2 separate regions of the Homo sapiens genome follow, and region 1 is linked to region 2. Evidence: fine-mapped expression QTL. Tissue or cell type: naive CD8 T cells. Region 2 holds a variant in brackets; the other region holds the start of a gene. All regions are shown on one strand. Distances are between the middles of the regions. Region 1 holds the start of ACACB (acetyl-CoA carboxylase beta). Region 2 overlaps ACACB (acetyl-CoA carboxylase beta).

Evidence for each region. PIP is the estimated chance that this variant, and not a neighbour inherited with it, causes the effect.
Region 1: ACACB starts here. The variant in region 2 is fine-mapped to the expression of ACACB in naive CD8 T cells (Schmiedel 2018, PIP 0.93).

What each region holds. Positions count from the first base shown.
Region 1 is chr12:109,113,713-109,119,089 of GRCh38, reverse strand. ACACB (acetyl-CoA carboxylase beta) reads right to left here and starts at 2,503. Exons shown (of 53, transcript NM_001093.4): 1 at 2,386-2,503. It overlaps LOC105369974 (a long non-coding RNA gene), which reads left to right. Exons shown (of 3, transcript XR_945332.3): 3 at 306-436.
Region 2 is chr12:109,135,748-109,141,124 of GRCh38, reverse strand. It overlaps ACACB (acetyl-CoA carboxylase beta), which reads right to left. Exons shown (of 53, transcript NM_001093.4): 2 at 1,067-1,728. The coding sequence starts at 1,719. Among named protein-coding and RNA genes, the nearest start is that of ACACB, 22 kb to the right of the region's middle. The variant G/AG (reference allele first, on the strand shown) is at 3,226.

The DNA.
Region 1 (5,377 bases), 22 kb after region 2:
GTCCTCAAAATTATGTGAGATCCCATAATTATTATGGCATACCTGGGGTATGCCAACTACCCAATAATCAATACCTTGGTTTCTCTGCTGTGCCCAGCCTGGATTCTCTGATACAAGGATCCCTGGATTCCTGGAATAAATGAACACGGTCTATCTTCCTAGAAAATCACCTTACTCTACGGTCATAAATTTACTATTATCACTGCAAACAGAGAGATCTATTAGGATAGGATGTGAAATGTGCATACATTTTTCCGATCAAATGCAATATTTCTAACTCTGTTTCCTGGTTTCCCTGGGTACAGGTGAACTCTACTTTGAAGTAACAAGTCACTGAATCACAAATTCAGAGGAAGCATGAGAACAAGGTATTCCAGGCCGGGTGCAGTGGCTCATGCCCGTAATCCCAGCACTTTGGGAGGCCAAGGTGAGCAGATCACTTGAGGTCAGGAGTTCGAGACCAGCCTGGCCAACATGGCAAAACCCCATCTCTACTAAAAATACAAAAATTAGCTGGGCGTGGTAGTGCTTGCCTGCAATCCCAGCTACTCGGGAGACTGAGACTGAGGAATTGCTTGAACCTGGGAGGCAGGGGTTGCAGTGAGCTGAGATTGTGCCATCGCACTCCAGCCTGGGTGACAGGACGAGACTCTGTCTCAAAAAAAAAAAAAAAAAAAGAACAAGGTCAAAGTTTCTACTGGGATAAGACTTCAAGGAAACCTCCATTTCAAAAGATTAAAATGTTTATTTCCCCATGAAGACTGGGTATCTCATGTAATGTAATACTCAAATTTCTGTCTCAGACCTAAAGGTGTTGAAAGTATGAGCGAGTTTACACAACACCTGAGCAGGAGCAAATAAAACTCTTAAGAGCTTCTGAAAGAAAGTTACAGATTAGAGATATTTTCATCTCTAAATCACATGAATTAGGATTGGCTGGGTCTTTCCACTTAAAACTTGGAGAAGTCATAAAAAGAAATCTTGTAAAGAACTCCATGTCACTATTAGCAGAAACATGCAATTTATAAAATGATATCTTTGGCCAGGCGCGGTGGCTCATGCCTGTAATCCCAGCACTCTGGGAGGCCGAGGCGGGCGGATCACTTGAGGTCAGGAGATCGAGACCATCCTGGCTAACACAGTGAAACCCTGTCTCTACTAAAAATACAAAAAAAATTAGCCGGGCGTGGTAGTGGGTGCCTGTAGTCCCAGCTACTTGGGAGGCTGAGGCAGGAGAATGGCGTGAACCCAGGAGGCGGAGCTTGCAGTGAGCACTCCATCTCAAATAATAATGATAATAATAATATCTTCACCTTTCAGTTTTTAAATTGCAAGTCCCATGTCCCGGGAATTCCCCGGTCCTGGGCAAAGTGGGATGGTTGGTCACCCAACCTATATGGATGCCCATTGATATTAAAAAATAAAAGTAATCACAATAGACATGAGGGAGAGAGTTGTGTACAGTGTGAGTGTACAGAATAAAAGGTCTGGGGGGTTTATACCAAAATGTGCACAGTGGCTACCTGGAGGAGGAGGGTTAGACAGGAATAACAGCAAGGAGACTTTTGCACGGTGCTGAGTGACTTTTTAACTTGCATATTATTTTGGAATGCATTTTTTCAACATTGAAAGAAAGTCATGTCTTCCTAGAAATATAGGATATAGGACCACTACAAACGCTTTACTCTTAGTCTCCTTTTTTTCTTTTTCTTTTCTTTTTTTTTTTTTTTGAGACAGAGTCTTGCTCTGTCAGTCAGGCTGGAATGCAGTGGCGCAATTTTAGCTCACTGCAACCCCCACCTCCTGGGTTCAAGCGATTCTCCTGCCTCAGCCTCCCAAGTAGCTGGGATTACAGGTGCCCATCACCACATCTGGCTAATTTTTATGTGTTTAGTACAGATGGGGTTTCGCCATGTTGGCCAGGCTGGTCTCGAACTCCTGACCTCAAGTGATCCACCTGCCTCTGCCTCCCAAGGTGCTGGGTGGCATGAGCCACCGTGCCCAGCCTTAGTCTGCTTTAAAAAAAAAAAAAAAAAAAAAAAGAACAACCATTTGAGGAAACAGAAACAGAATACTATTCCTTAAGACAGTAGCTTTGGAGGCAAAAAACAGAATTGTTTATAAAACGTTGTGGAACTTATATGGGAGCATGTCCAGGGATCCACACCACCATTTATAGAAGCAAAGAAAGGCCCTTCTCTTTCATCTGCGTTACATTTCGAGCTCTTCTGATTAGCTTCCTTCAAACATGACGGGAGTCGTTTTTCCCCGGGGACCCCAAGTGCATGCCTTCAGACAGGGTCTGCTCTCACTATACATTGGGTTCGAATTTACCTGGACGTTGGCAGAATGGTCCGGACCCCGGGGAGGGGCGAGCTGACTTACCACTTTATTCCTGCCGCTTTTCTCTTGCCATGTCCTCCCCACCGTGCATTCAGGGTTACATTTTCCAGGTTCCTTGTTTGCTGAGGGCCTGAATCTAAGCCTGCTAGCTGCTTACTCTGGGGACTGCAAATGTCACTTTTAGATTAATCAGCCCCTGCTGTTTAAAAATATCCCTGGAGCACTTAACCTTCAAAGCAGCAACAACCCGGGGCAAAGATGAGAAAGATCCCACGTCAAACCACTTGTGCAGCCCTGGCTACTCCTGGGAGAGTTCTGCTATCTGCCTTTTAATCCCATAACTCGCTTTATTTCATAATTCTTAGCTGTTGAAGCCATGAGGCATCTAAAGTCCATGTTGTCGTAAGCAGTAGGCAGAAAGTCATCTGGGCCCTCCTGTGACATGCTGAAAATTAACTGCCTACAGGTGTTGGTCATTTGAGAAACAAGCCCCCATTGAAAACCGTGAATGGGAAGGTGATCGCTATCAGGTCACCTGGCTTCTCTCCCCTGAAAAGATTTGGCGAAACCCTCTCAAATCACGCCACTTAATGGAATGTTTCCAATTTCTTGTGACTTGGGGATAAAAGAAAAAAACAGCTCCATTGCCACATTCTCATTCAGGGTTGACTGGCTCTTGCTAGGGTTGAGCACAGAAGAGGAAATTCAGCACACGCTGCAGTTACATAGTGTTCTGCAACGTGGGGAGGGCTGGCATGTGGGACAAAGGTCGCCTCCAAGGCCCAGCTGGAGAAGCCCAGCCAACTAGGCAGCAGGAAAGTGGAGACCACATAGGAGCACATTGTGCTCAGGCAACAGGGAAGGTGGAACCCACTTCCTGCCAACAATGATGGCCTTACTAAACAGCAAGTGGAGAAACTGGCGAGAGCGCTGAGCACGGGATCTGTGCAAAATGGTTTAAATGGAAATTGCTGCTGGGGCTGGTGCAGCCTGTTCACAGCTACTTTGTTTCTGGGCTTATTTTGCAATAAGGAACAGTCATTGAATATTGGACTTCTTGGGATTTTCTCCACTGGACTTGGAAGCATGTGCTCTGGAAACCTCAGCATTATCAGCTGTAACCCCACAGCACCAGGTACATGTTACAGGAACCGGGGTGAAGGAATGCAGGTCAAATGCCTGCACAATGCCCGGCCCGAGTCATATGTTCTCTAGCCACAGTAGCCCTTGTGATGGCTCTTAGTCTATTTATTAAGACAATAAAAGAGGTGACTCTCAAACAAACCTATGTTTCCAGGGAGAGCCATCTGTGATTCAAGGACATTTTTATAAAATTCCATTGAAAAAAATTCTTAGGCTTCTAACTTCATGAAAAAAAAATTCTTTCCCAGTGATTCCAAATAATCATGATCTAGGCAGGGTGTTGACAGTGGCAGGACTATTAGGCTTTGAAATCAAGCTGATGTGGGTTTGAATCCTCCCTCCATTAGCCATGACTTTGAGCAAATGGCTGAGCTTCAGTGTCCTCATCAACTACTTCACCATATGGGTGAGAAAATGAAATGATTTATATTGAGTTTCTGGCACAGGGGCTTGCTCATGACAAGCACTTAATATCTTTCTAATGAAATTCATTACTTGCAAAAAGACTAGACATACCCACACATACAGGTGAAGAACTCTGCAGTGATTCAGTTCTCCCTAGACACTATCTCTTTAAGACACAGGTATTTTCCAGAATATAATTGGAAGGCTTGAAACCAAAGTTATTCATAAACTCTTTCCATCAAACACAAGAACGGTAATAGAAATATATTTCTTCAAACAGCTGTTAGTTTCAGAAAGTCACAGGTATCAAGTTACATTTTTTGTTTTGTTTTGTTTTGTTTTAGAAATAGGATCTTGCTCTGTTGCCCAGGCTGGATGGAGTGCAGTGGCATGATCATAGCTCACTGCAGCCTCGAACTCCTGGGCTCAAATGATCCTCCTGCCTCAGCTTCCCAAGTAGCTAGAACTACAGGCACACACCACCCCTGGCTAATTAAAAAAAAAAAAATTTTTTTTTTTTAAAGACAAGGTCTCATTATGTTGCCCAAGTTGGTCTTGAACTCCTGGCCTAAAGCGATCTTCTTGCCTTGCCTCCTAAAGCACTGGGATTACAGGTATGAGCCACTGTACCTGGCCCAAAAAAAATTATTAAGTGACCACATGGTCTAACAAAACAAGGCACCTGGAAAGAAATCACCAGTCCTGCTGCAAACCGGACCCTCTGTGAGAATTCACATGCCTTCCCCCACCAATTAAATCAGAATTTCCAGGGATGGGGTCTGGCTTTGCATGTTTTAGCTTCTCTAGGCTGGAGGAGCACTAGCTTCTTGTTGGAAGGCTCCCTACCTTCCTCTCCCACACCCTCACCCCAAACATCATTAAGAGAGACAAAAGAACATGCTATATACACAACTAACAAGCAGAGAACATAAATTATTGATCTCCTGGTCTGCTCCGCTCACCAATATTTATATTTCCAAGCATATTTCAAAAACTTAAAAACTGGTTCCCTAGCCTGGGCAACTTAGCAAGACCCCATTTCTATTAAAAACTTAGCCAGGTATGGTGGTGCATACCAGTGGTCCCAGCTGCTCAGGAGGCTGAGGCAGGAGGATCACCTGAACCCAGGAAGTTGAGGCTGCAGTGAGCCATGACTGAGTCACTGTACTCCATCTTAAGAAACAGAGTGAGACTCTATCGCAAAAAAAAGAAAAAAAAATTGGTTCCCATTGACTTAAACTACAAAGGAACTTCCTGTTGTCAGACCCAAATTACAGTGTCAGAAGGACTCTAAACAAGGAGGCCATCTCCAGCAGAGGAATGTTCTAGCTTTCCTCAGCTTGAGTCAGCACAAGTCAGCATGTGAGGTCTTTTCAAAGTAACCCAGAGCACCTCCCTGCAACCTGTTTTTCCTTGCAAATCTTGAAGGTTTGGCAAGGATGAAAAGCCAACACCACACGCATACGCCAAAAAGTTTGCTTCTCCA
Region 2 (5,377 bases):
TGGAGACCAGCCTGGGCAATATGGTGAGATTCCCATTTCTATAAAAAATTTAAAAATTAGCTAGGTGTGGTGGTGCACACCTGTAGTCCCAGCTACCCAGGAGTGCACTGAGGTGGGAGGATTGCTTGAGCCCGGGAGTTTGAGGTTGTAGTGAGCTATGATCCTACCAGTACACTCAGCTAACAGAGTGACAGAGTAAGACCCTGTCTCAAAAAAAAAAAAAAAAAAAAAAAAGAATGAATGAATCAATGTCTCTTCAGGAGGCAGAGAGAACTGCCCCTCCCTCTAGACTACCATCATCACTTGTGGCTCTTGCCAGCCTTGGCTCATTCAGCTTAAATTATAACTAAACACAAGGTCATCTTCCCCAACTAGGCTGAGGTCTTCTAGAAAGTCAGTTTCATGGCATCGAGCCCTGTGCATGCAGTAGATGCACAAGGAATGATTTCTTTCCTTTTTTCCTTTTTTGAGACAAGGTCTCGCCCTGTCACCCAGGCTGGAGTGCAGTGACGTGATCTCAGCTCACTGCAACCTCCACTTCCTGGGTTCAAGAGATTCTCCCGCCTCAGCCTTCCAAGCAGCTGGGATTACAGGCACACGCCTGCATGCCTGGTGAATTTTTGTATTTTTAGTAGAAACGGAGTTTCACCATGTTGGCCAGGCTAGTCTTAAACTCCCGACCTCAAGTGATCTGCCTGCCTTGGCCTCCCAAAGTGCTGGGATTACAGGCATGAGCCACTGTGCCCAGCCTCAAGGAATGATTTTGAAAGGAGGGAAGGAAGGAAGGAAGGAAGGAAGGAAGGAAGGAAGGAAGGAAGGAAGGAAGGAAGGAAGGAAGGAAGGAAGGAAGGAAAGAAGGAAGGAAGGATGGAAGGAAGGAAGGAAGGAAGGAAGGAAGGAAGGAAGGAAACTTCTGAGAAGGCTCGTGTCTTCTCCTTTTGTGCATAGCCACCCTTGAAGCTTTGGCATCAGCAAACAGCTTGATCAAGGTGGGCACAGGTTGGGAAGGGTGTGGACCCCACCTGAACTCTGCACTCCTCAGTTACAAGGAGAAAATGCACATTACCTCATAGTGGGGACGCGGGTCTCAGCTTCACCTGTGGTCAGATAAGCCTCCAGGGACAGGGCCCCCAAGCTGGCCCGGCTGCCCTTCCGGGTAGACTCACGAGATGAGCCAGCAACAGAGTCCTCGTCGGAGGAGTAGTCATCAAAAGAGCCCAGGATGAAGTTGGTCATCAGCTGCCTCTTGATGTTTGCCTGCTTCTTGTCTTCTTTGGAGGGGGAGCCAGCTTGCTGGCCCTGGGGCCTGGCTGAGGAGGACAGGCCATTGGTATCTGTGGCCTCCAGACCTTGTGTCCCAGTCCCGTTGGCTTGAAGCTCTGGGGAGGGTGCTGCGTCACTGGAAGAAAGGGGGTTTCTTGGGGGCTTCTGGTGGGAGGGTGGTAGGGAGTTTCTCCGCCGACCGGCATCTTTGGGGCCTTTGTGGGAGGCTGGCTCGGCCTGGCTGGGTGTCTTGGGCAGAGTGTGGCCCTCCCCATTTCTCTGCGGTGTCTCCCCTGAGTTATCAGAGGCTGGAAAGGGCTCCTGGCTCGGGATGAGGTTTGCTTCTGATTTACTCTTGGTGATCGGCTTGGAGTCCGTCATTTTCCCCCAGATTTTTAACCAGGAAAAGGTCAGACAGGAGAAAATCAGACAAGATAGACAAAGAAGCAAGACCATTCAGAAAATCTGTAAGGAGAAAAGGAGAGACATTTTAGGATTTACATAATCAAGTGATTTCTCTCCTAAAGAAGCTAGTGGGGCAGGAGGCTGTTGGGGTGCTGTGTATTCCTGAAATACTGGACGAGGGGAGAGATGGGGTTCTCCTCCCTGCTCTGCCTGAAACAGGCTTGGACATATTCCTTCACCCCTCTGGATCTTAGTTTCCTGCCAAGGTTCAAGGAAGAACCTTGAAAACTGCTAAGTTAAAGAAGCCAATCACAAAAGGTCACATATTATACGATTCCAAGTATATGAAGTGTGCAGAACAGGCCAATCTTGAGAGACAGAAAACAGATTAGTGGTTGCCAGGACCTAGTGGGATGGGGATGATGGCTACAGAGTGTAGGGTTTCTGTTTGGGATGATGAAAATGTTCTAAAGCAGATTGAGGTGATGGTTGTACAGCTCTGTGAATACAGTTAAAAAACATTGACTTGTCCTTTACATGAGTGGATTGTATGCCATGTGAATTATCTCTCAATAAAGCTGGGGTTTTTTTGTTTTTTTGTTTTGAGATGCAGTCTCCCTTTGTTGCCCAGGCTGGAGTGCAGTGCCGCAATCTCTGCTCACTGCAAACTCCGCCTCCTGGGTTCAAGCAATTCTGCCTCAGCCTCCTGAGTAGCTTGGGCTACAGGCATGCACCACCATGCCTAGCTAATTTTTGTATTTTTGTGGAGACAGAATTTCACCATGTTGACCAGGTTGCTCTCTAACTCCTGACCTTGGCTTCCCAAAGTGCTAGGATTACAGACGTGACCCACCGCGCCCAGCCAAAGCTGTTATTTTTTTTTTTTAAAGACTCTTAATTATATTCCACTTTATAAATGAAAGGGAATTGTTGCTTCTGTCATCATCATCATCATTCTAGTATTATTATCATATAGTCAGTCACCATCATGGCCCTGGAGGGAGGAAGGGCGCCATCATCCCCAGTGTGGGGTATGCTTACAACTAGCATAGAAGCCCAACAAGCCTCGGGAGACTGTTTTCTGTTGCAGGGTCTAGACCAGTGCCTGGTATGCAATGAGGGCTTACAAGTGTGTATTGAAAGAATGAACCCAGGTATTCCAATCTCTAAGCCACACCTCTTTCTATCACCCTAACTCTGCCCTACTAATGAGTAGATCATTGTTATTTGAAGGAAATCTTGTTTTAAAAATGAGCCCAGTGCGGTGGCTCATGCCTGTAATCCCAGCACTTTGGGAGGCTGAGGCGGGCAGATCACCTGAGGTTGGGAGTTTGAGACCAGCCTGGCCAACATGGTGAAGCCCTGTCTGTACTAAAAATAAAAATACAAAAATTAGCTGGGCATGGAGGTGGGTGCCTGTAATTCCAGCTACTCGGGAGTCTGAGGCATGAGAATCACTTGAACCTGGAGGTGGAGGTTGCAGTGAGCTGAGATCATGCAACTGCATTCCAGCCCGGGCAACAGAGTGAGACTTGGTCTCAAAAACAAAAAAAAAAA[G/AG]AAAAAGAAAAGAAAAGCCCAGGAGGCAGAGGTTGAAATGAGCTAAGATGGCACCACTGCACTCCAGCCTGGACAACAGAGTGAGACCCTATTTCAAAAAAAATTTTTAAATGGGACCTCTCTCTATGTGTTGAAATTTCTGAACCAATTTTGCCACAATTATATACTAGAAGCATTACAAAAGTGGACCACAAAGCTCAGCAGGTCAATTTGGTATCTAAAAATCCTTTTTTTTTTTTTGAGTCAGAATCTGACCCTGTCGCCCAGGTGGGAGCATAGTGGCGTAATCTCAGCTCACTGCAACCTCTGCCTCCTGGGTTCAAGAGATTCTTGAGCCTCAGCCTCCCTAGTAGCTGGGATTACAGGTGCCCCCCACCATGCCCGGCTAATTTTTGTATTTTTTGTAAAGATGGGGTTTCACCATGTTGGCTAGGCTGGTGTCTAACTCCTGACCTCAAGTGATCCGCCCACCTCTGCCTCCCAAAGTGCTAGGATTACAGGCGTGAGACACTGTGCCCTGCCATAAAGCTTTTTCTTTTTAAATTTCAACACAATGTTTTTAAAGGAAGTGGAAAAGTTCTCAATATTTCCCAGAACTAAACAATCCAAGTACTTCTTACACACTTTCAGCAGCAGAATTTGCTGATATGTTGCCAAGGCTATTTTCTAGGTAGTACACAGGGTCAGAGGGGTTTTTTCCTTTCAAGATCATCATGTGTTTTTTTTAAAGAAAAGTCAGTCAAGGGTGGCTCAATGTCAATGTAACATGCCACATTAATGGAACAAAGGGAAAAAAACCACATGATCATCCCAATTGATGCAGGAAAAGCATTTGACAAAATCCAACACCCTTTCATGATAACAACATTCAGAAAATTAGGAACAGAAGGGAACTGCAACTTAATAAAGTACATTTATGAAAAATCCACAGCTAACATCATACTAAATGGGGAAAGGCTGATAGCTTTAACCAGGAATAAGACAAGGATGCCCACTTTCACCAGTGCTATTCAACACTGTACTGGAAGTTCTAGACAAACCAATTAGACAATAAAATGAAATAAAAGACATAGAGATTAGGAAGGAAGAAGTAAAGCCACCCCTATTCACAGATTACATGGTCCTATATGTAGAAAGTGCCAGATAATACACACACAGAAAACCTTGGTATTGTAGAGGTAATAAAAATAATTAAGCAAAGTTGCAGGATACAAGATAAATACACAAAAATAGTTGTGTTTCTATACACCAGTGGTAAATAATCTGAAAAAGAAATTAAGAAAACAATTCCATTTATAATAGCATTCAAAAGAATAAAACACCTAGAAATAAATATGTTTAATTTCAATGTTTCCTTTTTCTATTATTGCCTATCACACTTGTTTCCTACCTAGGAATAAATTTAACCAAAGAAGTGAAAGACCTGCACACTGAAAACTACAAAACATTACTAAAAGAAATTAAAGAAGAATTAAATAAATGGAAAGACATACCTTGCTCATGGATTGGAAGACTTATTGTTAAGATGTCCATATTATCCAAAGGAATATACAGATTTATATGGAATTTCAAGAGGCCCCAATCAGCCAAAACAATCTTAAAAAATATGTTTGAAGATTCACATTTCCCAATTTAAAAACTTACTACAAAGCTATGGTAAACAAAACAGCATGGTATTTGGCATAAGATAGACATATAGATCAATGGAATAGAAACCTATACATCTATGGTCAATCTATTTTTGACATGGATATCAAGACCATCCAATGGAGAAAGAATGATCTCTTCAGGCCAGGCATGGTGGCTCATGCCTGTAATCCCAGCACTTTGGGAGGCTGAAGCAGGTGGATCACGAGGTCAGGAGATCAAGACTATCCTGGCTAACATGGTGAAACCCCATCTCTACTAAAAATACAAAAAAATTTAGCCAGGCATGGTGGCAGGCACCTGTAGTCCCAGCTACTTGGGAGACTGAGGAAGGAGAATGGCGTGAACCCGGGAGGCAGAGCTTGCAGTGAGCCGAGATCGCACCACTGCACTCCAGCCTGGGCGACAGAGCAAGACTCCGTCTCAAAAAAAAAAAAAAAAAAAGTATTACCTCTTTAACACCACATGGTGCTGGAACAACTGGATTTCCACATGCACAAGAATA